3 linked regions of the Homo sapiens genome follow. The protein of the gene in region 1 purifies or fractionates together with the protein of each later gene. This does not show direct contact. Each region holds a gene or a part of one and is shown on either strand. Other genes may lie near its edges.

Region 1 (10,418 bases):
ACCTCTTCAAGACCATCTAATGCCGGTCCAGAAAGGTTCAGTGACCAGTCAGTCCGAAGGGCTTGTTAATCTTGGCCACATAGAATTTTATGTTCTCTATACAGAGAACTCTAAACTTCAGAGATACAGCCTTAAAATACAGAGAGCACTAAGCTTAGGCTAGCTGCATTAAACTGGCAGTTCTACCTGAAAATACACTTTTTTCTAGTTGCCGTTTAAAATGAATCTTTCACCAAAGGCCATTGTCAGTGCTTTGTAGATAAAGCTATTGATTTTGGCATATAAGGTTATATTTAAAATCCTCTTTAATATTTAATAGCCCAGGTTCAGTGAGAGCAAACAGAATCATGTATTGATTTCTTTAAAAAAATACTATTTTTAAAATTAATTTGGTCATAAAAAAAGCCTACATTGTAATACCTTATTGCTTGTTCTCTTTGTTTTCTGGGTAGAAATATTAGCAGAAGGTCAGGTCCTCCTTAATGAAACTGCCGAGCCAGACACTGAATAGGCTTCAGCTTGCCATCAGCTACGGTGTTCCTCATTATCATATGGGAGTATTTAATCCAAGCCAATAGGAAGCACGCCCTGAGTTGTGACCCCCCAATTACAGAGTCTCAGTGCTTGCTTCTTGCCCTGACAAATATAAAGTTGTGTGCTGTGCTCGTGCTACTGCTGCCTGCTGTTAGAGAGAGAGTGATTGGGGCGTAAATGTTGCATTTGCTCCATCTGCAAGTGTTATAATAAGTTATTCAGAGCTCTTAACACAGGACCAACCAGAGCGTGCCTCCCTCTCGGTTCCAGCACGTTTTCCTGCCCATCAGATGGATGCTCCTCTGTTGGAGTCTTTGGAAGGTTCTGGTGTCTTTTGTTTTAATTGGTGGGCTACCGCCGACTCCTATGGTGTGATTTTCATTAGAGAGGGGCTGGAGAGAGGGAGTGTTGGAACTGTCCTCCAAGCCCAACCATGAATATTAAACATAATACAATTACAGCTTTCAGACCAATTATTTTTCCTTTCAATGGGCAAAGTTGATGAAATACTCGCTAGATGGGGATTCACAATATCTACCATTGGCTCCTCTTTGTCCCTGGAATCGGTTGTCTTGGCATATTCTGGTGCCCATTTGCTGTGCTACCTGTTTCCCAGCGTCGAGTATTTGGTTTGAGTGCTGAGCTGACGACGGGCTTTGCCAAGGCGCACGGCATTCGGGCCTGTGCTGCGCGCTGTCAGATGTCCGAGGCAGATACCTGTTTCTTCATGTGAATCTGAATGGCTTGGGTGGACTTAGCACACTGTGCTGTCTGCTGTTTCTGTCGACGAGAAGCCAGAGTGGTGCTTCTCTAAGGAGATGTCAGAAAAATGTTTTTCCTTTTTCCCAGGGGGGAGAAATTCAAGGCTGGTTTGGCCTATTTTTTTTTCCTTAGTGATATAAAATACACTGAGGCCGCATCTTTTGGTTTATTTGTTTATTTTGTTTGGAGCCATCCATGCTGGTATCTAAATACAATAGGAAAACAGATGGCAAACTTTGAACTTCTGGACCAAATTTGTGTTTGCCTTTGTCTCCTTAACAGCCAAACTGTAAATTATGGAGTATAAATATTCAACAGAGGAGCTCTTTATGGAAATCACCATAGCTGAATAGACTCTGATTAACCAAATATGCACTGAAAAGTACTTGGTAAACACTTCCGCTCCCCCTTTCCCCAATCCTTTTCAAGTTCCCATTATGGACTAAGGTTAGAGTTCTCTTTACAGCATTTATACTTTTTCTCTTCTCTTACCTACGCATGCCTAAGGATAGGTGTCTGTAAACGTGACAGAGAGAGACCTTTGTTTACAAAGTCATCTTCAAGCTCTCTCTGCATCTTTCTGCTCCCAGATCCCTCACTGGCAAGTCAGGGACTGAGCAGCATTTGTAGCAACGGACCTATTATGTATCATCTATACATTATCATCTGTGTCCACTGGATGGACTTGTTATGGATCTCAGAATTTTGGATCTAGCAGACCTCTTCAAGACCATCTAATGCTGGTCCAGAAAGGTTCAGTGGCCAGTCCGAAGGGCTTGTTAATGTTGGCCACATAGAATTTTATGTTCTCTATACAGAGAACTCTCAACTTGTCCCTGGAATCGGTTGTCTTGGCATATTCTGGTGCCCATTTGCTGTGCTACCTGTTTCCCAGCGTTGAGTATATCTATTCACTTGGGTTGCCTTGTCAGTTACATGGCCTAGCAGGAAGAAGAAACAGTCTCTCCTCTGTGTCCTAAAACGACGTGTTGTTCCATCCTGTTTTATTTCACCTTTTCTAAGAAATAGATGAAAGTATTATTTTTTAATTATGAAACCGAACATATGTATGGGAGTGTATATAAGGTGCGCATACAGTTTCAAGAGTAACCGAGAATGCCCGCGCATCCACCTCTCAGCTCAAGAAAGAGAGTGTGACTGTTGAAGGCCTCCCGGTCATGAATGAATTCTTGTTTTTTAAACATGGCAGCGTCCAGAATAAAACACAAAAGCCGCCTTTATTGCCCTCTTTCTTCTCCAAGGTAATTGTTGTTAATGTTTCAAGTACGTGCTTCCAGAATTTGATCTTTAAAATTGTTTGGTTTTATTTAAACAGGAAGTACGCACATTCAAAATGGGCCTCAAAAGCAGAGTAGCCTAGAGGGCGAAGCGCACCCCTCTTCCCAGCAGCCTTGTCAGCCTCCCTCATTGCGACTGCTTAAATGCTGAGCGTTCTCTGGGGGCCGCCCACACACGCACAGCCTAAATGCATGTCCCCCAGCACACACCTGTGCGCACGGCTGCCAGTCAGCCTGTGTAGTTCTGCCCCGGGTCCCACTGTATGGATGTACCATAATTGCTTTAACTAGCACTCAGTTGAAGAGCTAGTTAATCGTGTCACCTACGTCATTCCAGTTCATGACAGCTAAAATGTGTCTGATTTTTCCTGTCAGTCTAATTATCTTTCCTTAATAGGTAATGTCTTTTTCTCTCAGGCTGCTTTTAGGACCTCTTGGTCTTTGTGTTTCCCCATTTTTTAAATTATACTCTTAGATATGTATTTTGTGTTTGATTCGTGTGCATTGAGTCGGCATGCATGTCTTTCATCAGTTCGGGAAACATCAGCTGTTAGCTGTCCGCACTCTGTTTTTCTCCTTCCGGAACTTGGGGCGTGTGGTGCACCACCCCTTCTGTCCCTCATGTCTCTTATACCCCCATTCGCAGTTTTCATATTTATCTCTTTGTGCTCCATTCTTGGTAATTTCTTCACATTTTTCTTCTGATTCACGCATTCTCTGATCTGCTTCCAGCCTATCTCCCAAATTTAATTTCAGGGACTATACTTTCATGCTTTTGTATTGAAAGCAGGAGTCTCCATACTCCGCTCCCTGCCTAGGGTGGCCCTTCAGTGTGTTTGATGAAACCACGGAGCTGAGCCTGGCGCTTGCCAGCAGCCTCCCCTCCCCTGAAGTCGCAGCTCACCCTCTCCTGTCTGGTTTTCAGCTCAGGTCCTGGGGAAGTCACTTCCTACGTGAGCTCAGCAGTGCCCTTAAAAGGATTTTATCCAGCATTTTTAAGCGTTTTACAGTGGAACTGTCAACATGTTGTCTGAAACAGAAGCCTCTTTTGCAACTAAGAGCAGTGACTGGCCTTGCGTGTATGTGGACTCTTGTGTAGCTACCTCCTCGAAGTGGAATTGCCGGCTCAGAAGTGAGGTGCATGTGGTATTTGGTTGGATATTGCCAAGTCACTCCCCAGAGAAGGATTTCTGCTCGCCTCAGCTGTCTAGGAGTACCTACCTGTCCATGTCTCCCTGCCACACAGTGCCTCGTAGGGCATGTTACCAAACTTTACCTTTGCTGGGTAGATTGGTGACAAGTGGCATTGCATTGTAGTTTTACTGTGTAATTTATCTGATTACCAGCAAACTTAAACATCTTACACATGTTTAAAAGCCATTAGTATTTTTCTGTGAATTGCTTTTTCTTATCTTTTCTGTCGATTTAATAATGGGTTGTCAGTCTTTACTAATTTGAAGGCATTTATTATAAGACATTAGCCCTTTTTGTTGCAAACATTTTCCTCAGTTTATCATTGGACTGACTTTCTGATTGTTCCCCCCAATAGGAAAAAGTTAAACCCTTTTTTCACCTTCCATATTTTGTTATGTTTAGAAAGGTCTTCCTCCTTTGAATATGTTTTATAGTTTATGTTTAACTCTTTGCGCTCTCTGTAATTTGTGTAATATATGTGATTGATAGAGCTCCAAGTTGAGAAAATTATTATAGAGTATTTTGCCTCTAACTGCTGTTACAAATGGGACATTTTCTTTGATTCTATTTATTTTTAAACTAGATTTTAGCATATAAATTTATATTTGACTCTGTGTTACTGAATTCTCTGGGACTGTCCCTTCTCACTGATAAGAAGTCTACCCACTTCTTTCCGATTTTTTTTAACCTTTCATTTTTTCCTTTTGTCTAATTGTGTCTGGTTTTTAAAAAGCGATGTGAAGTAATGGTGGTGCCAGTGCCTCACTGTTTCTAAAGACCACATCTGGAATGGCTGTGACGTTTCATCCCGTTGCTTTCGGCTTCCATGGACGTGACTGCCTGGTTTTTCGTTGATTCCCCTTGTCTGTGGCATCTTGCTGTGGAGTCTGTTCCTGATGTTTCACTCGGATATGTAGTTTTCTTTGATCATGCTCTCAGGGTTAGGCTTTGGTAATAGAATGCTGGCTTCATGGAGAATTTGGAAGCTTTCCTCCTTTTCCTAGGCTGTGGAACAGTTAACTTAGCCCTGGAGGCAGCTGGTCCTTAACAGGTCTGGCCAAAGTCACTTGTTCTTTTTTTGCAGGGATTGTTGCCCCTTGCTGGCTTCCTCAGGCTGCTATTTGTTATTTTATCTACTTGGATTTTCTGTCTCCTGGGGATTCGTTTTGATAATTCTTATTTTCCCAGAAAGCCATTTACTCATCTAAGTTTTCAGATTTGGAGATTTTAAAAATTCAAGAAATAGAAATAATTTCTGAATAGATTATAGTGACTAAAGAAACTATTAAAAAAAAAAAAAAACAGGCTGGGTGCAATGGCACATGCCTGTAATCCCGGCACTTTAGGAGGCTGAGGTGGGTAGATCCCTTGGCCCAGGAGTTCGAGACCAGCCTGAGCAACACAGCAAAACCGTCTCTACTGAAAATAAAAAAAAAATTAGCCTGGTGTGGTAGCACGTGCTTGTAGTCCCAGCTATTCGGGACGCTGAGGTGGGAGGATCACCTGAGCCCAGGAAGCTGAGGCTGCAGTGAGCCATGATGGTGCCACTACACTCCAGCCTGGGTGATGGGAGTGAGGCCCTGTCTTTAAAAAAAATAATAAACAACAAAACCTATAAAAAGAAATGTGATCCATGGAGTTTGTTTTTCCAGGTCTGACCGAACACTGAGTAAACTGCCCCTTCGTTGTTTTAAGTGCTCTCAGTGAATGCTTTTGCCTTGAACTACTCTGCCTTTTCTAGCATTAAAATTGCAACATCTTTTCATCCTCCTTTACAGATGTGTTTTTCATGCATAGCATATATTTTTACTTTGTGATCCATGGGCAGCTCTTCTTGTTAATAGGAAGGTTTGTCCTGTGTGCCTCCATGGACCCAGCAGACACACCAGGTCCCACTTAAGCCATCTGTCTTCTTGTTCTGGTATTTTGCTATGCCACTTTCTTTCAGAGAGTATCCACAGGTAGTTCACTTTGAGTCCTTTTCTGTTAAAGAAAAAGAAGTCTTTCTTTATTATGCCTTCACACTTGGTAGCTAAGCTAGGTATAGAATTGTTGGTTCAAAATAATTTTCCCTCAGAACTTGGAAAATTGACGTGTGTGCGCATGCTTGCATAACTAGAGTCAGGGCACGGGACATGTTTCAGAGAATCCTGTCGCTCCACAGCTTTTGGGTCAGACGTGCGTTTTTAATCTTACATCCTTGTGCTTGTCCTGTTCCTTGCTAGATGCTGGGGTCTTTCTTTTCAGGGCAGGGACTGTCTTTTCCTTTTCGACTTGCATCACAGGGTCTCTTAAGCTCATCTTTACATTTATTAAATGTAATGAATTTGATTTACTTTTAGCCTTTGGCTTATTGTAGAAACCAAGTAGGGTGGTGTTTGTAGTGGATACGAGATTTCTGTCCCATTATCTAATTTATCCTCGTGAAAAATTCCACATACATAAAAAGTAGTTTTTAAAGAGGTTCTTAAAGAAATGGGGATTATTATAAGGCAAGTAATTATTTCAATAAGTGACTGCCCAGGGTACACACACCCTTATCCCCGCTCTGCTGTGCTTATCAAGGATAAAGGCTTTCCCTTTCTCAGTTCCAGCAAGACAGCAATGAACTTACAAAGTCAAGTGAAATACCCAAAAAGTGTTCTTTTCCTAACCGGGTCCTCACCCGGTTAGGATCTGGGGTGTCTGGCTTTGTAGCTCTTGCCTTTAACAGGTTATTTTACCAACAGCAAAATTACTGTGCTGGGCAGTACACCTACTGCTGGGACAGGCGTCTCAGGCCAACCTGCGCATGCAGTCATGCAGGTGGCTTTTCCCTGTTAAGCAGGTAAAGTGGGCAGCCACTGTCCTTGGCCTGCGTCTTTCTTGCTCCATGTGCTTTTAAACCATTCAGATGAGACCGTGTGGGTCCTCCCTGACAGTCTGTGCTTGATGTCCTTATTATCGATGTTTGTTTGCAGCTGAGGAGTTTTTCATAGCAGTGTTGTGCATAGACCAGCACCGTGGAGGGGGAGTTTGTCATTTGAAGCTTTGACTCTAACCCCATTTCCCTTCTCTGCTCTTCCTGGGCCTGTCCAGGGTGAGGATCCACGACCTCCGCAGTGGTAACATCGCCCTGTCGCTCTCCGCCCATCAGCTCAGGGTCTCTGCTGTGCAGATGGATGACTGGAAGATCGTCAGTGGAGGCGAGGAAGGCCTGGTGTCCGTGTGGGATTATCGGATGAACCAGAAGCTGTGGGAGGTGTATTCCGGGTAAGGTGCATTCTAGACACTCTTGGGAGTTCCTAGTAGGAACAGGGAAGGCAGCACTAATCAGCCTGCACCAGGCACGGTGCTAAATGCCCCCTACCCCCCGGCTTCGCCAGGTGAATCCTTACTGTGACCCTAGGAGCCAGCTGCTGTCCCAGCACCGCTCTGCAGAGGAGGAAACAGGCTTGGAAATGGCGCTGGTCAGTGGGGATGCAGTTCCTGTCTCTGACATCATTCAGATCGCCACAATTCCTACATTAGCCAGGCCCAGCTTTCTCTAAGAATGAAACTACTTTTTTGCAAGTGCTATTCTGATTATTTTAGGATTTCTCCATCTTAATAAACAGAAAAGGGAACTCAAAAACATAGGAAGCTCGCTGGGCTAGACCAGGATGTGACACCCCACCTGCCCACAGGTGGAAGGCAGGGCTGGCCCAGCTGCTGTCCTCCACTCGAGTCCGTCATGTGTAACCATGGTTCTGCCCGTTGCTTAGACTTTCCTCATGCTGTTTACAGAGAAGAGCACTTAGGACTGAAGGGGTTCAGGCTCCAACGAAGGAGGAATTTGTCATTTCCACCTTTAACACCACTATTCAAAATATAAATAAATACTATCCTAAGCACAGGCTGATGGCGTCACAGAGGTAGGTAGGTTTACGCCAGTGGCACCTAACTGGTTAAGACATTTCCAGTGAGCCTGCTTCTGACCTTCAAAGCAGCAGCCCAGCCCAGGGCTGGCTCATCAGAGCTGACTTGAGCCCACCTGCCACCACCTCTACCTGGCCCTGCAGGCCTCGAACAGGAGACCCTGCGTTTGAGACAGGTGGGGAGAAAGGCAGCCGGCCCTCTCGCTTGCTGCCCTCAGCACCACTGTGAAGAGACATTCGGCCAGACACGTGGCTCACCTGTAATCCCAGCTACTCAGGAGACTGAGGAGCTCTCAAGGCCAGGGGTTTGAGGCTGCAGTGACTGTGTCACTGTACTCCAGCCTGGGTGACAGAATGAAACCCCATCTCTACAAAACCGAGATGATTCTGGGCCAGTGGCCTCTGAGCATGACAACATAGAAGAGCAGAAACAGGGCAAGGCCCTCCCACAGGAACTAAGATTTGTTCCCCACTTACCGCAAATCAAGGTAAACCGACCTCTGAGAACACAACCTCTGAGCAGCGACATGGTCTTTATGGAAGTGCAAGGTCAGCAATTTGACAGGTGTCTCCAAGAGGCGGCAGGGTTACATGCAGAATGGGCTTCTTCCTTGGAGGGCAGTGTTGGCAAACACTGTGGCCGGCACATTTTATCAGACAGAGCCCTGGGTACTGCCTGGCCCGCCCCCTCGCTGTGGCTGTGCCTGTTGAGGGCGCCTCGGCCCTTTTTCTGAATGGTGATGCACTGAATTGCCACCAGGTGGTGCCAAACGGCAACTAAAACTCCCGCACTGAAATTCCCGGAAGCATTGCCTTTGAGGAAAACCCTGGATCAGCCATCCAGGTCCTCAGGGATGGCTGCCAGCCCCCAACTCCAGTAGATCTCATTTTTCTCTCAGCAAAGCTTCACTCCCTGGGACAGGCCACTGAGATGAAGCCTAGCTAAGGAAGGCCTTCCCCAGAGGTGTGGCCCTGTCCCAGCACTGCCTCTGTCCCTGTGCGGTCCAGGCTTGTCCCCCACGTGGTCACTGTTTTCACCAGCACAAGGCTGACAGACACATGGTCTCCTGCCCAGAACTCACTGACTTGCTCAAGGCCTCACCTGCAGTGCCTGCTGCCAGGCCCCAGTCTGGCTGTTGTTTGGTCACTGTCATGTACCTCCCGCTGTCCGCTTCAGTCTCTTCAGCCCAGGTCCTCGCCTGCCTGACAGGGTGCCGTCAGTCCTCCAGGCTGCAGGCCTCCACCAAGCCTGCCCTCCCTCCCCGGGTCTTTCTCATCCTCCAGGTCCCATGCCAGGTCCACCAACACTTTCCTTCAGTCCTCCAGGCTGCAGGCCTCCACCAAGCCTGCCCTCCCTCCCCGGGTCTTTCTCATCCTCCAGGTCCCATGCCAGGTCCACCAACACTTTCCTTCAGTCCTCCAGGCTGCAGGCCTCCACCAAGCCTGCCCTCCCTTCCCGGGTCTTTCTCATCCTCCAGGTCCCATGCCAGGTCCACCAACACTTTCCTTCTGTGGGTGTCCCAACCCCAGGGAGGCAGGGACTGCTTCCCAGCTTCCCTCACTTCCAAGAATCCTTTGCTTTAGTCAAGGAGAGCAGCCCTGGCCCAGCCCACACAGGCCTCGTCCCCTCCTGTGCACCCCTCCCAGCCCACAGCACCTCCTGCTCCTCCCAGCACTTAACTCTGGGTCACACATTCTTTGTAGCTTGTAACATCGCTCGTGCTACAGAAACAATGGTCATGTTTTCTGGGACTGCATCTTACCTTCTTCACTAGCTAGGGCTCTCCCTGGGCCAGGCATCCACCTGGATGAGACATCTTTTTAATCCAGTGTCTCCTAGCTCAGTGCCGTGACCACAGCCGGTACTGCATGAAAGTTTCAGAATGAACGCAAACCTCTGTTCAAGAGACTTGGAACCATTTTGTTCCAAGATTTTCCGAACGTGCTTTCACCACCCAGGGTACGTGTGTCATTGCAGCCCTATGAGCAGGATGTGGGGGGCACCTTCATGGATCAACAGTGAACGTGCCCCCAGTGCTCCATAGATGATGGAGAGCCTGGCTGGGAAAGCTCAAGGGACTTGCCCAGGGAGGCAGCGATGGGCCAGTCTCTGTTGCATGTGGCTGATTCGTCTGCAGTAGGGTGTGCCCTTTATGTCTGGAATGTACCAGGTTGTGGGGGCAGATGCCAGCATGCGTACGGGGCATGCAGACCTGTTTACAAAGTCATGCCCAAAGCGTGGCCTGCTCACCTGAGCTTCGGGAACTGAGGTGAGACACTGCTTCCATGGGGGCCCTGTTCCCTCTGTGAAAGAGAAGCTTAGCTTTATGGGTTCTAGAATCCCCTGCAGCTCTGAACTCCCAGGCCTGCGGCAGCAAGTGCAGGCCCAGTGGACGCCCCCTTACGAGCTCTCTCCCACTGCCTTCCAGGCACCCGGTGCAGCACATCTCATTCAGCAGCCACAGCCTCATCACGGCCAACGTGCCTTACCAGACGGTAATGCGAAACGCCGACCTGGACAGCTTCACTACTCACAGGAGGTTAGTGGTGGGGCCGGGCGAGTAAGAGACCATCTTAGTTTGACTGATGTATAGAACCCCACCCCCCCCGCCGTGACACATTGCACCCTATGGGCTATACCCTCAGGCAGGGCCCTGCCTTTCTGCGAATTGGAAACATAAACGTGGATGCTGACCTGTACTGAGCACCCAGCATCTGATGCAGGACAGCCCCG
Region 2 (7,000 bases), on another chromosome or scaffold:
CAAATTATTTTACTATAATCTTTGTATGTAAGTGTAAAGGGTTGCTCAGGGAATTAAGGCACCGTCTACAGATGAGTTGTAATCTTGCTGAAAGGCAGAGGAATGGACAAAGGTTACCTCCTAATGTCCTTTTAGTTTCCTCCAAAGGAACAAATCCCCTTGTTCTGCCTCTTGGTCCATTATTATAGTCACTGAGGTATAGATAAGGCACATCTCTACATATCTAACATGCCTTCTTCACATATCGTCTGGTTTTCTTTTCTCTAGTATCCCAGTCGACATCAGTGACAGTGATATGATGCTGAACATCATCAACAGCTCTATTACTACCAAAGCCATCAGTCGGTGGTCATCTTTGGCTTGCAACATTGCCCTGGATGCTGTCAAGATGGTACAGTTTGAGGAGAATGGTCGGAAAGAGATTGACATAAAAAAATATGCAAGAGTGGAAAAGGTAAACTTTCAAAGTGTATACATTGGGTCAAATTATATGTTAGCATGAGTCATCTCACTTGTGAGGAAATAGTCTGTTTTTCATGCCGTTGTTTTGTTTTGTTTTTGAGACAGAGTCTCACCTTGTTGCCTAGGCTGGAGTATAGTGGCACAGTCACAGCCCACTGCAGCCTCAAACTCCTGGCCTCAAGCAAATCCTCTGATTTGCTAGGACTACAGGCACATGCCACTGTGCCCAGCAAATTTTTTTTCTTTTTGTAGAGATGAGGGTCTCATGTTGCCCAGGCTGGTCTTGAACTCCTGGCCTCAAGTGATCTTCCCACCTCAGGCTCTCAAAGTGCTGGGATTATAGGCATAAGCCATCATACCCTACTTGAATGAAATAGTTTTAAATCAGAGCAAGGTATGTTTTTTGTTTGTTTGTTTTTTTGAGATGGAGTCTTGCTCTGTCGCGCAGAGGCTAGAGTGCAGTGGTGCGATCTCGGCTCACTGTAGCCTCCACCTCCCGGGTTCGAGTGATCTCCTGCCTCAGCCTTTAAAATAGTTGGGATTACAGATGCCTGCCACCACGCCCAGCTAATTTCTTTTTGTATTTTAAGTAGAGACGGGGTTTCACCATGTTAGCCAGGATGGTCTCGAACTCCTGACCTCAGTGATCTGCCCACCTTTGCCTCACAAAGTGCTGGGATTATAGGGTGAGCCACTGCGCCTGACCAAAGCAAGGTATCTTTAGTTAGAACTAGGAAGAACTATACTTGCTGCCTGGAAACAAAAACCTATAAGAGGCTACCAAGTAGGAATTTCTTCAAATAGTTTTGTTGTTACCTTCACTGCTATCCCTACACAAGGTTTATGAGGACAAGGGACAGGCTTATTGGTGTCTCCATGTTTGTGTATTTGCATACATCAGTCATTTGGTCAGGATATAAGCTTAACAAGGGCTCTATTATGTAGTGCTATTAAAATAGTAAGCCCCAGAAAGCTTTCTCTCCTGTCCACTAAATTTCATTAAGATCCAAAAGTTTAGTAGTATAGCTTGTGGCCAGTAGATGGAGCCCCAAGCCTAAAATTCTCTGGCAATATATTTATTTTTTTAATTGGAGAGACCTAAGCCCTTATTTATTTATTTAAATAGCAATTGGGTCTCAATGTGTTGCCCAGGCTGGTCTCGAACTCCCGGCCTCAAGGGATCCTCCTGCCTGAGCCTCTTGAGTAGCTGGGATTTTAGGTGTGAACCACTGTGCCTGGCTCATAAGCCCCTCTAAGTCTTTTGTCAAGTCATTGAATTTCAGTGAGTCTCAGCAGACCTTCAAGTTGAGTGTCATGGTCTAAAATTGGTGTATTTCCTAATGGGAAAAAAATGTGATTCCAATAATATTTTTGAGCTTCATCAAAGAAAGGTACTTTAGAAACCTGAAACACTGGGCCGGGCGTGGTGGCTCATGCCTGTAATCCCAGCACTTTGGGAGGCCGAGGCGGGCGGATCACGAGGTCAGGAGATCGAGACCATCCTGGCTAACATGGTGAAACCCCATCTCTAGTAAAATACAAAAAAAAAAATTAGCCGGGTGTGGTGGCGGGCGCCTGTAGTCCCAGCTACTTGGGAGTCTGAGGCAGGAGAATGGCGTGAACCCGGGAGGCGGAGCTTGCAGTGAGCCGAGATTGCACCACTGCACTCCAGCCTGAGCGACAGAGCGAGACTCCATCTCAAAAAAAAAAAAAAACCTGAAACACTAGCTGTTTGGGAAAGATGAACATCTGGGAAGGAAATTAAGAAATTGTCTCTTGATTGTGGATTAAAGTGCAGTTGTCTTTTGTTCAGATACCTGGAGGCATCATTGAAGACTCCTGTGTCTTGCGTGGAGTCATGATTAACAAGGATGTGACCCATCCACGTATGCGGCGCTATATCAAGAACCCTCGCATTGTGCTGCTGGATTCTTCTCTGGAATACAAGAAAGGAGAAAGCCAGGTAAGGTTCTTGGCCTTGTTCCTTAAAGTAGATGCAAGAATCTGACTGCAAATATGAACAACAGAAATAAAACGTATGTTTATTGCATGCCTTCTGGGTGCATAGTGTACACTGACTCTTAGAACAATCCTTTAGAATAGTTGGTATTGATTTCATTTTACAGATGAGGGATCTGAAGCTCAAACAAGTTAGGTTAATTGCTTGAGGAATACAGCTAGTATTGGCCAAAATCAAGATTTGAACCTGGTTGTGTTTGGCTTGTTTTATACGATCATGCTGCCTTTCCTAATGCACCAGGGGAACATAAGGTAGGAGTTAATTCAGCTTTGAAGTACTAAAGGAGAATTTCAGCTTAATGCAGTGGCTCACACCTATAATTCTAGCACTTTGGGAGGCTAAGGCAGGTGGATGGCTCGAGCCCAGGAGTTCAAGACCAGCCTAGGCAACATGTCGAATACTGTCTTTATTTAAAAAAAATTAATTGGGCGTGGTGGCATGTGCCTGTAGTCCCCACTACTTGGGAGGCTGAGGTGAGAGGATTGCTTGAACCCAGAAGGTCAAGGGTGCAAGGAGCTGTGATCACGCCACTGAACTCCAGCCTGAGCAACAGTGAGACCCTGTCTCAAAAAAAAAAAAAAAAAAATTCTAGAGGGCAGGAGGCTCACAAGGCTCCATCACATTTGGAAAGAATAAGAATCAATTAGTGGGAAGAATTAAGACCCAGGATTTTCCTGCACACTGCCAGGACAGATGTAGGATTGGACTGGGTGGTCAGAGACCTTAGAAAGGCCAAACTCAACACTAATTACTGTGTGACTTTCAGTTCTGGTTGTTTTATAATGATATAACTGGAGCTGGCCGGGCGTGGTGGCTCACGCCTGTAATCCCAGCACTTTGGGAGGCAGAGGCGGGCGGATCACGAAGTCAGAAGATCGAGACCATCCTGGCTAACGTGGTGAAACCCCGTCTCTACTAAAAATACAAAAAAAAAGTTAGCTGGGGGTGGTGGCAGGCACCTGTAGTCCCAGCTACTCGGGAGGCTGAGGCAGGAGAATCGCTTGAACCCAGGAGGCAGAGCTTGCAGTGAGCCAAGATCGCGCCATTACACTCCAGCCTGGGTGACAGAGCAAGATTCCGTCTCAAAAAAAAAAAAAAGCAAAACTAAAGCTAAATTGGCTTACAGAGGTGTTGAGGTCATGGCTTTAACATAATTCTGACTCTGAGATACGTGGGAGAGGTGGGTGGAAGGAGTATAATATGACCCTTAGAGCTTCACCAGTCCAGGGATTTTAAAATCAGTGTCTTTTCTTTACCACACAGACTGACATTGAGATTACACGAGAGGAGGACTTCACCCGAATTCTCCAGATGGAGGAAGAGTACATCCAGCAGCTCTGTGAGGACATTATCCAACTGAAGCCCGATGTGGTCATCACTGAAAAGGGCATCTCAGGTGGGACTTTGTTACTTTTTCCAGCCTACCTTTGAGGTAGACGAGGGTGGGTGATTTGTTTTCTCCCCTCATGTTTGGCAGGGGCGTAATAGTGTCATGGTTAAGAGTACTTTGATTATAAAACCAGTTCAGAACCCAGCTTGACATCTCTACTCTTGGATTTGTAGATTTAGCTCAGCACTACCTTATGCGGGCCAATATCACAGCCATCCGCAGAGTCCGGAAGACAGACAATAATCGCATTGCTAGGTGAGTAGGCCAGGTAAAAACAAGACTTTTCTTCCCGTGTGTTTCCTTTTTGTAGTTGCGTAACAGTCATCATTACCTGAAAAGGTTTAATAAAGGATATAGTAACAGGTAGAAATAACCTTGGCTTAGCTGCCTGCCCTCTTCAGAAGTCCTCTAGTCCAACAGTTATTTACTGCGTGAGTCTCATCTGTACTGCCCCTAACCATTAGTGAGCAGCTTGTGCTTAGACATTTGTAATTGCTACCTTGGTGGGTGTCCGTTACATTTCTAAATAACTGCCTATCTAAGAGGTTTTCTTTAATGTCATTATGATGATTTTTGAATGAACATTTCCAGAGTATCCTAAGTGGCCTGGATTATAGCAGAACCATCAGTTTCCTCAGCTACATCCTTAGCTGCGATTTATGCGATTCTAGATTGCATTCACTACTTCTGCACTGATGTCTGTGCTCATAGACCATTCTTTTTAATAGACAAGGTCTTGCTGTGTTACCTAGGCCTGTCTCAAACTCCTGGGCTCAAGCAGTCATCCTGTTGTCAGCCTTTCCAGTACCTGAAACTATTGGCATGCGCCACCATGCCCAGCAAAGTTCATTCATTTTTAATTTATCAAAAAGCTGACAAATCTACCCCAACATAATATATCACAGATCCAAATCATATTTTATACTTTTATACCCCAAAGGGTATTAACATGCATACACATAGTTGACTTCACATGGCCATGAGTTGGAGGGAGTGACAAGCAATTAGTCCTACATTCATTAAACTTCGGTCAGACGTATGCAGTCATCCCTTGATATCCACAGGGCATTGGTTCTAGGATCCCCGCCCCCTTGAATACTAAAGTTTGTGGATGCTTAACCCTTATATAAAATGGTATGGTATTTGTGTATAACCTATACACATCCTTCTATACACTTTAAATCACCTTTAGATTGCTTATAATGCCTAATATAGCATAAATGCTATATAAATAGTTGCTATACTATATTGTCTTTAAAATTTATATTATTTTTTGCCGTTGTATTATTGTCCATCCCCCCACCCCACCCCCCCTGCCATGTTATCAGTGCATGGTTGGTGGAATCTGGATGCGGGACCTGCGGATATAGAGGGCCAACTCTACTTACATGTTTATTCGCCTTCCTCCTTGCTTGACCTTTGCATCTTTGGTACAGTCTTTATTATTCGCCTGGAGACTCAACTGGGCAGTACAGGATGGGTTATATCTAGAAGTTACCATTATATAGTATAGACATGTTAATTTTTTTCTTTTATCTTTCTTTTTTGCAGGTTCTAATTCTCTAGTTGAAATATGTACATGTTAGATATGCATGAGAACTAATTTGTCCAGATTTTAGTAACCACAAAGTATATTTTGAATTCAACTATATCTGGTTATAGTAGTGATGACTAGTTGCCTTAAGTGTACAGTTGACCCTTGAACAACTTGGGGGTTAGGGGAATCAGTCCCCAAGGAGTTGAAAATCCATGTATAATTTTTTGACTCCCCCACTCCTAATAGCTGACCGTTGACCCGAACCCTTACCAATAACACAATTAACTATCACATATTTTGTATATCATATGTGTTATATACTGTATTCCCTTAAATAAAGTAAGCTAGAGAAAATGTTATTAAGAAAATCATAAGGGCAGGGCACGGTGGCTCATGCCTGTAATCCCAGCACTTTGGGAGGCCAAGGCAGGTGGATCACCTGAGGTGAGGAGTTCAAGACCAGCCTGGCCAACATGGTGAAACCCCATCTCTAATAATAATACAAAAATTAGCTAGGTGTGGTGGTGCATGCCTGTAATCCCAGCTACTCGGGAGGCTGAGGCAGGAGAATTGCTTGAACCAAGGAGGCGGAGGTTGCAGTAAGCTGAGATGGTGCCATTGCACTCCAACCTGGGCGACAAGAGTGAAAGTCCGTCTCCAAAAAAAGAAAATCATAAGGAAGAGATAACACATTTACTATGCCTTAAGTGGAAGTAGATCATCAAAAAGGTCATCATCATCTTCATGTTGAATAGGCTGTGGAGGAAGAACGGGCTGGTCTTTCTGTCTTGGGTGTCAGAGGCAGAAGAGTGGTAGAAGGGGAGGCAGGATGGGCAGGAGGCACACTCAGTGTAACTCAATGGAAATACATCGTGATTTGTCTGACTTCTGCTTTTTTGTTTCTCTAAAAATATTTCTGTATAGTACCAGTCCCTCTTCCACTGCTTCAGTTTCAGTGCCTCTATCATAGAAGGGTCCATATCATAAAAGAAGTCAAAAGCAGTCTTGAATAATCAGAAGCCTTCTGCCAGATTGTCTAATGTCAGTTTGTTTTCTGGCACTGCTGCTTCTACATCATCTTCCTCATCGTCTGGCACTGCTTTGGAAGCAGTCGTCTCCATCAAGTCATCTTCTGTTTGGTTTTTTTTGTTTTTATTTTTTATTTTTTTGAGATGGAGTTTCGCTCTTGTCGCCCACGCTGGAGTGCAGTGGCACAATCTTGGCTCACCACAACCTCCGCCTCCTGGGTTCAAACGATTCTCCTGTCTCAGCCTCCCGAGTAGCTGGGATTACAGGCGTGAGCCACCAAGCCCAGCTAATTTTGTATTTTTAGTAGAGACGGGGTTTCTCCATGTTGGTCAGGCTGGTCTTGAACTCCCGACCTCAGGTGATCCACCCACCTCAGCCTCCCAAAGTGCTGGGATTACAGGCGTGAGCCACTGCACCTGGCCTGTCATCTTGTGTTAATTCCTCTGATGTAATGTCTGTTAGCTCTTGAGTTTCTCCAAGATTCATATCTTGAAACCCTTCACCACCGCTATGCCAGTTTTTTTAGCCACATCCACAGTCTCTTTCATGATTTCCTTGATTG
Region 3 (10,418 bases), on another chromosome or scaffold:
TGTTATCATAAGCACATTGGTCTTGGCTAAGGAAGCCTGGCTTTCTCTATTCTCCTGAAAACCTGTACCAAGGGAAATCTCTGGGGACAGTGAGTCTATTGCAGGGTAGGGCAGAGTCTAGGGCTGGTGGTCTCAGGCACTAGGGGGGCAAAAACATCTTGGAGGAGGAGACCCCCAGCTCCTCCCCCCAACCCTCCTCTCATCAGTTCCACCCTTCATACCGTCCCTGTCCCAACCCAGAGAATGTGGAGCGTTTCTACAGCCGAGGCTGACCCCGTGGTCCCCTCTGTGCAGCTCCTGCGCAGCAGAAAGTCTGCTGTGCTTTTGTGACAGCTGTATTCGTGTGTCTCTAGCTGTGAGTAACTGTCAGCTGCTGTGAGATTTGGTCTCAGGAAGGTCCCTCTTCAACACATGGCCTACTTTCCAGGGGTAGGGAACACAACGGGGTCAGGGAGGACGGCAGGGCACACCCCTCATGCCCGGCAGTGGCTGTCCCTGTCCTCCAGACGTCTCCTCGTGGATCGTGTATCCCAGCGGCAAGGTGTATGTGGCAGCCGTGCGCCTGGAGCGTGTGGTGCTGACCTGTGAGCTATGCCGGCCCTGGGCAGAGGTGCGCTGGACCAAGGATGGAGAGGAGGTGGTGGAGAGCCCCGCGCTGCTCCTGCAGAAGGAAGACACTGTCCGCCGCCTGGTGCTGCCCGCTGTCCAGCTCGAGGACTCCGGCGAGTACTTGTGTGAAATTGACGATGAGTCGGCCTCCTTCACTGTCACCGTCACAGGTGTGGGCCCAGCCCAGCTCCCCGGGGTCACAGAGACAGCCCTGAGCCCTGGAGGAGCTGGCCACATAGCCCCAGCTAGCACCCCGGGGAGGAGGGAGGTGTGGGCTGCAGGTGCATGTGCCAGGGTTCTTGCTGAGATGAGCCCAGGGCCCCTATTCAAGGAAACAAGCCCCTCCCCGGTGCCCAAGGCCAGGCCTAGCTCTGCTCCACAGCTCATTTACTGAGCACTTTCCCTGAATCAGGCACTGGGAGTAGCAGGTGAGTAATGCAAATACGGTCCCTATTCTGAATGAGCTGCCAGGCTAGGTGAGGAGGCAGCTGTTAACCAGGGGTCGCAAACGGGTAGTCCTGGGGCCCTGCGCATTCCACACATGTGCTTTGTTTGGTCTGCAGAGTCTTACCAAAGTCAGGACAGTTCAAATAACAATCCGGAGTTATGCGTCCTCTTGAAAAAGCCGAAGACCCGGCGGCTCTGGTCCCGCTTCCCCCCATGGCGACGAACAGCTGGCACTGAGTAGCAGCTGCCCCCATAGTTTGGGGCCCACATTCCTCTGTCCCACCTCCCTGCCATTGCTTTTTGCCTCTCCCCAGACTGCTTCAGCCGCTAACCTAACCTGGCCCCTGTGGGCATTTGAGTTTGCGACCCCTGTGTTAAACCAATAAACATGCAAATAAATGTACAGTGACACCTGGTGATAAGTACTGTGAGGGCCAAGGGCAGAGGGCTCAAGAGCACAGAGCAGGAGGGTCAGGGAGGCCTGGGAGAAAGTCACCCTTCCACACACGGGAGCCAGCAGCACGCAGACACGGCCGCTTCCCTCTAGGACTGCACAGCCTGGCAGGAAAGCCAGACGCATTCCAGGATCTTAGAGCATGGGTTGTTGAGGGCCAGTCTAGGGACCCTGGGGCTGGGAGCCACCACCCTGGCCAGGCAACAGGAAGTGCTTTCAAAGCTGATACTGGAGCTAAGTGGGGTGGGGTGTGGGGGAATATTCAAAGCGGGAGAAGCACAGGACAACTGTGGAAGTGACGGAGGTTCAGTGCCGGAGACCTCGGGGTGACGGCTCACAGCGCCCAGCCCAGTGTGTGTCTGGGGCTGGGGGTCCATAGGGCTAGGCAGCTCTGGGGGGCACAGAACCCCAGTGGCTGCACTGGAGCCCCCATCCTACTGCGGCCACAGTCCTGTCCTCTCCCAGCCCTGCCCTGAAAGTCACGCCCCATGCAGAGCTGTTTAGGGCCCCCCTGCTCCTTGCACCCCAGCTAATGCACTCTACACACACAAGCCCACAATGCCTAAGAGGCCTTCTGCACATATTCTGCCCTGTCGTAATCATCTTCACCCTCTCCCACCCAGCCATGGCCAGACAGAATGGCCACAGCCACACAAACTCCAGCCCATGCTCAGGCTCCCCACAAACACCAGTCTCTTCACAGGGAAGTTCACACAAACACCACCTCTGCTCTAGGCCAGAGCGAATCAAGTCTGACACCAAGCTGAGGTCCCGGGGCTGGGCAGCCACCCGGTCCCATCACTGCACCCTGTCCTCACCCCACTGCCCTCATCACCTTCCCCACTCCTCAGGCAGCTGCATTCTGGTCTCTCCTGGCCTTGCTCGGCCCCAGAGGACCAGCCTGCATCCCCCAGACCCTTAGAGCAAGCAAGCCCATGGGGGAGGTGGGTTGTGTGGCTCAAGGCAGGAGTCTCCGTGGAGGCTGGGGGGCTGAGTGGGAGCTTGTGGTTACCTCGGCCCATGCATGCCCCTATAAACCACCCCCAGCCCCCACCCCCCCAACCCTGGCCCCTGATTGGGAAGCTAGCAGTTCCTCAGCCCAGCCACCAGGGGGCCAGAGGCTAATGGAGCAGTAGTCGCCCCAAAACTTGAAGATTCTGGGGGGACCTGGGGGCAGCAGGGGTGTGGGCAGGCCTGGGCTCCATGCGCTGGTCACCTCTAATATTGACATGGTTCCCTTTCTGCAGAGGAGTGACCAGAACTTGGAGATGAGCTCCCAGAATCAGCATTTAGCACCCCTGGGGAACTCTCAGACAGACGTTGAATGCAAAAAGCATTACTGAGTTCCTGCAAGCCTTGGCTTGGAATTCCTGCCACTACCTGTGGGGTCTGAGCCTCCCTTTAACAGAGGGTATTTCCTCCTCCTGCCCCAGAGTGGGTGTAGCCAGCTGTGACCTTAAGGAAGTTGTATAATCACTCTGTGCCCAGTCCCTTATATGGAAAATGGGGACAAAACACTACCTTCCTCTTAGGATTGCCGTGAGAGTTAAATGTTTCAAGTGCTTGGGACTGTTCCTGGACCTTAGGAAGTGTCATATCAATGTTTGCTATTGTAGATCCACCATCCCTTATCCATGGTTCCAAAATTCCAAAACTCTCAAAATCAAAAGGCTTTTTGTAAGTTTTGTATTCCAAGTCATTTCAGGAAAACCTGAGCTTGATTGCTCTGAAGCTATTTCTATGCTTTAATTATCCTGCTGAGGGTGAATATAGCTATAGCTGTATATCTATAAGATATGAGTGTCTTATAGATATATGCTTGTATCTGTAAGATTCTGTATCTTTCAATCTATCCTGCTTAGGGTGAATGTAGTATGTGTTATACCACAGACATGTTAACGTGACCGATGAAGGGGGAGGCTCCCGTGGGGGCTGAGGAAGGTATGTGATAGATGAGAAACGCATCATTTCTGGAATCCAAAGCATTCTGGATTCTGTAACACCCTCTGGCCCCAGGGATTTCAGAGAACAAACTGTGGACCTATTATTGCTTATTATTATTTTACTTATTATTCTCATTATTATGTGGGTGATAGGGACTTCATGCTGCCGAATGGCTCCAGAGAGGCTGACGGTGAGCTTGTGACAGGCTGTGGTTGTCCCCACCCTGCAGAACCCCCAGTGCGGATCATATACCCTCGCGATGAGGTGACCTTGATCGCCGTGACCTTGGAGTGTGTGGTGCTGATGTGTGAACTGTCTCGGGAGGATGCCCCTGTGCGCTGGTACAAGGATGGGCTGGAAGTGGAGGAGAGCGAGGCCCTGGTGCTGGAGAGGGATGGGCCACGCTGCCGCCTGGTGCTACCTGCTGCTCAGCCCGAGGACGGGGGCGAGTTTGTATGTGATGCTGGAGATGACTCGGCCTTCTTCACTGTCACTGTCACAGGTGGGCAGTCTCTGCAGCACAGAGAGGAGGTAGAGAGGTAGGGGGCTAAGGGACAGACACCCACCTAGCCCCACCTCCCCCACCCCATCCCCAGCCTTCCCCTTATCCAGCTTCCTCATGTTTGGCCATCAGAATCCTGCTTAGCCACATCAGGTCAGGACCAGAGGCCTGGTGGGAGGGTGCCCAGCAATTAGAACCATTCGTTCATTCATCCATTCGTTCAATACTCATTGAGCAACTACTATGTGCTTGGCACTGTTTTAGATGCTGGGGATACAGCAGTGAACCAATAAGACTAAACCTCTTGTCTTCACAGAGTTTAAACTCTGGTGAGGGTGGACAGACAAAAAATAAAAGAGATGGTTTGTCAGGTGGTAACAAGTGCATCAGAGGCAAGGCAGGGAAAGGGGATAGGAAGTGGGGATGGGTGTGGAGTGGGGTGTGTAGATCTGGGTGTGAGTCTAGATCTGCCTCTTTCTGTCTGTGTGACCTTAGGCAAGTCAGTTTCTTCTAAAGAGGCCTCAGGTCCTCAGCCATGAAGTGCAGCCAGCAGCTGTGCACCTCTTGAGGGTGGTCAGAGTAACTGATTGAAAAAACACAGGGTTCTTAGGACAGTGCCTGGCACACAGCAGCTGCTCCATGGACTGCAGCTGGCACTGTTCTCAAGAGCTGTGCTGCCAGTGGGGAGGGCTGAGGATCTGGCGGGTGAGGCAGGAGAGGCCTGCTGGCCAAGCCTATGTGCCCCTCTCCATGCCCACCCACCAGCCCCACCAGAGAGGATTGTGCACCCGGCAGCCCGCTCCCTGGATCTGCATTTTGGGGCTCCAGGGCGCGTGGAGCTGCGCTGTGAGGTGGCCCCAGCTGGGTCTCAGGTGCGCTGGTACAAGGACGGGCTGGAAGTGGAGGCATCAGATGCCCTGCAGCTGGGTGCCGAGGGGCCCACCCGCACCCTGACCCTGCCCCACGCCCAGCCTGAGGACGCCGGGGAGTATGTGTGTGAGACCCGGCATGAGGCCATCACCTTCAATGTCATCCTGGCTGGTGGGTGCTCCTGGCCAACCCAGGGCAGGGAGGCAAGGGCAAGCATGGGATGACACCTTCCTCTCTTCTCCAGAGCCTCCAGTGCAGTTCCTTGCTCTAGAGACAACTCCAAGCCCGCTCTGTGTGGCCCCTGGGGAGCCAGTGGTGCTGAGCTGTGAACTGTCCCGGGCTGGCGCCCCCGTGGTCTGGAGCCACAATGGGAGGCCCGTGCAGGAGGGCGAGGGCCTAGAGCTCCATGCCGAGGGCCCCCGCCGAGTCCTCTGCATCCAGGCTGCAGGCCCAGCCCATGCAGGGCTCTACACCTGCCAGTCTGGAGCAGCCCCCGGAGCCCCAAGCCTCAGCTTCACCGTCCAGGTGGCTGGTGAGTACAGCCTGGGCATTAAGCCTGAGAGTGGCACCAAGCCTGAGAGTGGCACCCCAAACTCTGCGGGATTCCTGCTTTTCCAGCATGCCTTGCCCATCCCTGGCCCCACTTCTCTCAGTACCTTCCCCGTCATGCCTCCCCGTGCCCTCCTCAAAGCCCTGAGCCTCTCCCTCCCAGTGACCTCCAGCTCTGACTCCACAGAGCCCCCTGTGCGGGTGGTAGCTCCCGAGGCAGCCCAGACGAGGGTTCGGAGCACCCCAGGCGGGGACCTAGAGCTGGTGGTGCACCTCTCCGGGCCAGGGGGCCCTGTACGCTGGTACAAGGACGGGGAGCGACTGGCAAGCCAGGGGCGGGTGCAGCTGGAGCAGGCCGGGGCCAGGCAGGTGCTGCGGGTGCAGGGGGCACGGAGCGGGGACGCTGGGGAGTACCTGTGCGATGCGCCCCAGGACAGCCGCATCTTCCTTGTCAGCGTGGAAGGTAACAGTGTACCCCTCACACCCTGTGGGCTGTGGCACCCCAAGGACCATCTGCCACTTTCTAGGGCCCCCTTACTCCTCCACCCCCGCTTTGCTGCTTCTGGCTCCAACCAGTGCGTGCATGACCATCACTTGGATAGGGGCTCAGGGCTCCTCTTTCCAGAAACCCTCATGTTGAGAGCAGCATAAACCAGTGGTTAAAAGCAGGGGCTCTAGAGTCCACCCAGCCAGGTTCCAGCCTAGATTCTGTGCCCCAGTAGCTGTGTGACATTGGCCAAGTTGTTCAACCTGTCTGAGCCCCGGCTCTGAAAAGAGGGGATAGTGCTTTTCTTATAGGCCTGTTGTGACAAGTAAATGCTGTAAATAGGGTCCCTGGTAATTGATATTATTAGGGTGCCACCAAGGTGGGGTGCTAGGCTAGGATTATGAGGAACTGACTAAAAGGAGTGGCAGGGAGCTGGCATCTTGTCCTTTGGGCCATCGGTGTGGTCGATACATAGTAGGTCCTCACAGAAGGTCTGTTAAATGACTGGGGACGAGGGCCTGCATCCTGAGGAGGGGATGAAAAGGAGAGAGAAGAAAAGACTCAGCCCAGCTCACTGCCTTACCGTGCCCCTTAGAGCCACTGCTGGTGAAGCTGGTCTCGGAGCTGACACCACTCACTGTCCACGAGGGCGATGATGCCACGTTCCGGTGTGAAGTCTCCCCACCAGATGCCGATGTCACCTGGCTGCGCAATGGGGCCGTCGTCACTCCAGGGCCCCAGGTGGAGATGGCCCAGAATGGTTCAAGCCGCATCTTAACCTTGCGAGGCTGCCAACTGGGGGATGCAGGGACCGTGACTTTGCGGGCAGGGAGCACGGCCACAAGTGCCCGGCTCCATGTTCGAGGTTAGGTCCTGATGAGGATGAGATACTCTGTGTCCCGTGCCTGTACTCCCAACCAGGATTCCAGCAGCCTTGCCTCTCCACCTAGGGACAGACCAGTGGGATGGAGCAAGGGGCCAGCCTCCAACCCCACCAGACTCCATGGCCTCCTTCTTCCCCACCAGAGACAGAGCTGCTGTTCCTACGGCGGTTGCAGGATGTGCGGGCAGAGGAAGGCCAGGATGTGTGTCTCGAAGTGGAGACAGGCCGAGTGGGTGCAGCGGGGGCCGTGCGCTGGGTGCGAGGTGGGCAGCCCCTGCCCCACGACTCTCGCCTGTCCATGGCCCAGGATGGGCACATCCACCGCCTCTTCATCCATGGTGTCATACTGGCCGACCAGGGCACCTACGGCTGCGAGAGCCACCACGATCGCACCCTGGCCAGGCTCAGCGTGAGGCGTGAGTGCCCCGTCCTCTCTTAATGCATTACCCACCCTACACCACAGCCTTTTCTGGCTGTCCTGGAGTCCCTCAGGCCCCCACCAAAGTGCCCCTCATCGCTGAGAAAAGTCACCCATGGCCGTCCCAGCAGCAGCTTGCCCAAAGCAAAACTTTTCTTTTTCTAATATTTTTTATTTACCTTAGAAGTCCATGTGGATTTTGCATTCCATTGCATATTTCCAAGTCGGCTTTGCTATAAACACAAATATTCTCCAGAAAGACTTGCCATGGGCATCCTTCAGGCATGTATTCTAGGGATACACATACCCACTTAAGTAGCAGGGATGGCTGTCAAACAGCACCCCACACCTCCCACCCAAAGCTGGAGCCCTCTGTTTCCTATGTGACCTCATGCAAGTTAACCTCTTTGAGCCAAGTCTCCTTAAAAATGGGGCTGAGACCAGGTGCAGTGGCTCACGCCTATAATCCTAACACTTTGGGAGGCCAAGGCAGGAGGATCCCTTGAGGCCAGGAGTTCGAGGCCATCCTGGGCAACATAGCAAGAACCCATCTCCACAAAAAAAAATAAAAATTAGCCGGGCATGGTAGTTACTAGGGAGGCTGAGGCAGAAGGATTGCTTGAACCCAGGAGGTTGAGGCTATAGTGAGCTATGATCATGTCACGGCATTCCAGCCTGGGTGACAGCAAGACCCTGTCTCAAATTTTAAAAATGGGGTTGATCCCCGTCTCAAGTGTCTCTGGGAACATTAACTGAGATAACATGAAAATTCTTACACAGAGCTTGGTGAATGGTTGTCATTTGTGACACATCTCTTCTAACTTATTTCATTCAAGAAATCATCACAATAAACCTGTGTCCCAATGTTATTCACCTTGTACAGCTGGGGCAACTGGGGTCCAGAGAGGTCAGGCCATTTGCCAAAGATCACATAGCACACAAACTATGTGGTAGAGCGAGGTTCCATTCCTAGTGTGTCTGACTCCAAATTCCGTGCTCCTTCAAGTGTCACAGCACCCCTCACCCAGACTCCACGACCCCCTAACCACACTTCTCCCCCTTCCTGTGCCCTCATCTCCTAACCCTGATACAGCCCTCCCCCCGCCAAATCTGTCCACCGTGCTCCTTTCTTCCTGCACCCTGGTTCCGAACTTTTTTGGTCAGGACCTTAGGTTGGGTGTTCAGGGGTGTAGGCAGGGCCAAGGGATGAGGATTGACTGCAACCCCTGCCCAGAGCTGGAGGCCTCATCCTCCCTCTCTCCATCTCCCCCGGCCAGCGAGGCAGCTGAGGGTGCTGCGGCCTCTGGAGGACGTGACCATCAGTGAGGGGGGCAGTGCCACCTTCCAGCTGGAGCTGTCCCAGGAAGGTGTGACCGGGGAGTGGGCCCGGGGTGGAGTACAGCTGTATCCAGGACCCAAGTGTCACATCCACTCGGACGGCCACCGTCACCGACTGGTACTCAATGGCCTGGGCCTGGCCGACTCAGGCTGTGTCTCCTTCACAGCGGATTCCCTGCGCTGCGCAGCCAGACTCATTGTGAGAGGTGTGGCCTCCAGGACCACAGCCTGCCTGCTGACCTGTGTGGCCCTACTTACCCCAGGCATGAATACTGACCCCCAACTCGTGTGACCCCCACTGACCATGCCTGTCTCAGTGTGGCCCTCATTGACATCCCTGCCAGAGTGTGATCCCCCTGACTCATAGGCCCTGTGTGGCCCCAGAGTCCTCTGCCTGGGTGTGGCCCCTGACTGCCCAAGGCTCAGCCAACCACTGACTCTGCTACCAAGAGCATGCCTTTGCCATTGTGGTCACTGCTGTCTGCCCGCCTGCACACCACCCCACTGACCACTCTAACTGTGACCCTACTGGCTACACTGTCTGCCGTGGCTCCCTCTGCCCGCCTAAGTGTGGGCCCCGTGACCACTCCAGTCCCTTGAATCCACTGACTGCCTACGGGCGACATCACTAGCAAGTCTGCTTGAGTGTCCCCCATTTTTACTTCCAGTCCCAGGATGTTCCCACTGACCACTCCACTGGCATCTCTGCTTGTTTCCCCATTGCCCTCTGGCCCCCAGCTTCTCCCCCACTGACCACCTTAAAGTGTGACTCCCAGTTGGCCACTCCTAACCCATTGGCCCTGTGGCCCTGCCCACCTACATCCCCCCCACCCCCACCACTGACAGATCCTTCTTGGACCACTTGTCCCAGCTCGAACCCCACTCGCTAGTGTCCTCTACTGCCTGTTGTGCCCAAGTGTATGTCCTCCTTGTCCCTGCAAGATGGGTCCCCATCCTGCTCCCTCTGCACTGTCCTCCCTCTCCCACCCCCAGAGGTCCCAGTGACCATCGTGCGGGGGCCACACGACCTAGAGGTGACCGAGGGCGACACAGCTACGTTCGAGTGCGAGCTTTCCCAAGCTTTGGCTGATGTTACCTGGGAGAAGGTCAGATCCCAGCCCCAGCCAAGCCCACTTCAGTGTAACACCAACGATAATAATGCCCCAGACAGAAACAGCTAATATTCCTTGAGCGGATGTGCCTGGCACTGTGCTAAGATTTGCATTATATTTAATCCCTTACTCCAAGGACAACTCTAGGAGGTAGGTCTTGTCACTGTAATACCTATCAGGAAACTGATGCTCAGTGGGAAAAATTACCTACCCAAGGGCAGACAACAGGTAGAGCCCATATTCGAATCCAGGTTTGCCTAACTCCAGAATCCGTGCCCATGTCCCCTGTGATCGATACCTGGCTCTGGGCTTCCCGAGTGCCTTGGCGGCCCTAAGGTCCCCAAAGGGTGACGCTTTTTCAAAGAGGCTCCTGGCACGACCCCAAAGGCTTGGGGACAGTCCGACCCCAGCCTGGGAACACGAGACACGCATAAACGCGCCTCGAGACCGCTTGGCATCAACAAAGGGTGCGCCGCCTGCCAGGGCCGGGGTCGCCTGTGCCCAGCCGGGCTCGCCCCGACCCTCTGCAACTCCCGCCCCTAGGACGGGAACGCGCTTACGCCTAGCCCGCGGCTCCGGCTCCAGGCCCTCGGCACGCGCCGCCTTCTCCAGCTGCGACGCTGCGGCCCCTCGGACGCCGGGACCTACAGCTGCGCGGTGGGGACGGCCCGCGCCGGACCGGTCCGCCTGACCGTGCGCGGTGGGTACGGGGTGATGTGGAGGCTGGGCACTGCTTTGGGCGCGAGACTTGCGGAGCTGTCTTCCCCGGACCCTGATGACCGCGCGTGCTTCTAGAAAGGGGGCG

The links.
Region 2: the proteins of FBXW8 (region 1) and CCT3 purify together in Homo sapiens (affinity purification with mass spectrometry; 3 studies listed by BioGRID and IntAct, with this or other methods). This does not show direct contact.
Region 3: the proteins of FBXW8 (region 1) and OBSL1 purify together in Homo sapiens (affinity purification with mass spectrometry; 2 studies listed by BioGRID and IntAct, with this or other methods). This does not show direct contact.

What each region holds. Positions count from the first base shown.
Region 1 is NC_000012.12:117,017,281-117,027,698, forward strand, and holds part of FBXW8 (F-box/WD repeat-containing protein 8), read left to right. Parts: intron 1-6,866; coding exon 6,867-7,040; intron 7,041-10,113; coding exon 10,114-10,224; intron 10,225-10,418. UniProt on the Homo sapiens protein: Substrate-recognition component of the Cul7-RING(FBXW8) ubiquitin ligase complex, which mediates the ubiquitination and subsequent proteasomal degradation of target proteins.
Region 2 is NC_000001.11:156,314,293-156,321,292, reverse strand, and holds part of CCT3 (T-complex protein 1 subunit gamma), read left to right. Parts: intron 1-267; coding exon 268-454; intron 455-2,275; coding exon 2,276-2,425; intron 2,426-3,745; coding exon 3,746-3,878; intron 3,879-4,045; coding exon 4,046-4,127; intron 4,128-7,000. UniProt on the Homo sapiens protein: Component of the chaperonin-containing T-complex (TRiC), a molecular chaperone complex that assists the folding of actin, tubulin and other proteins upon ATP hydrolysis.
Region 3 is NC_000002.12:219,552,763-219,563,180, reverse strand, and holds part of OBSL1 (obscurin-like protein 1 isoform 1 precursor), read left to right. Parts: intron 1-506; coding exon 507-779; intron 780-1,172; coding exon of another isoform or gene 1,173-1,297; exon of another isoform or gene 1,298-1,459; intron 1,460-3,683; coding exon 3,684-3,956; intron 3,957-4,721; coding exon 4,722-4,997; intron 4,998-5,070; coding exon 5,071-5,358; intron 5,359-5,562; coding exon 5,563-5,838; intron 5,839-6,457; coding exon 6,458-6,727; intron 6,728-6,888; coding exon 6,889-7,161; coding exon of another isoform or gene 7,162-7,184; exon of another isoform or gene 7,185-8,032; intron 8,033-8,440; coding exon 8,441-8,707; intron 8,708-9,494; coding exon 9,495-9,607; intron 9,608-10,156; coding exon 10,157-10,313; intron 10,314-10,418. UniProt on the Homo sapiens protein: Core component of the 3M complex, a complex required to regulate microtubule dynamics and genome integrity. It is unclear how the 3M complex regulates microtubules, it could act by controlling the level of a microtubule stabilizer.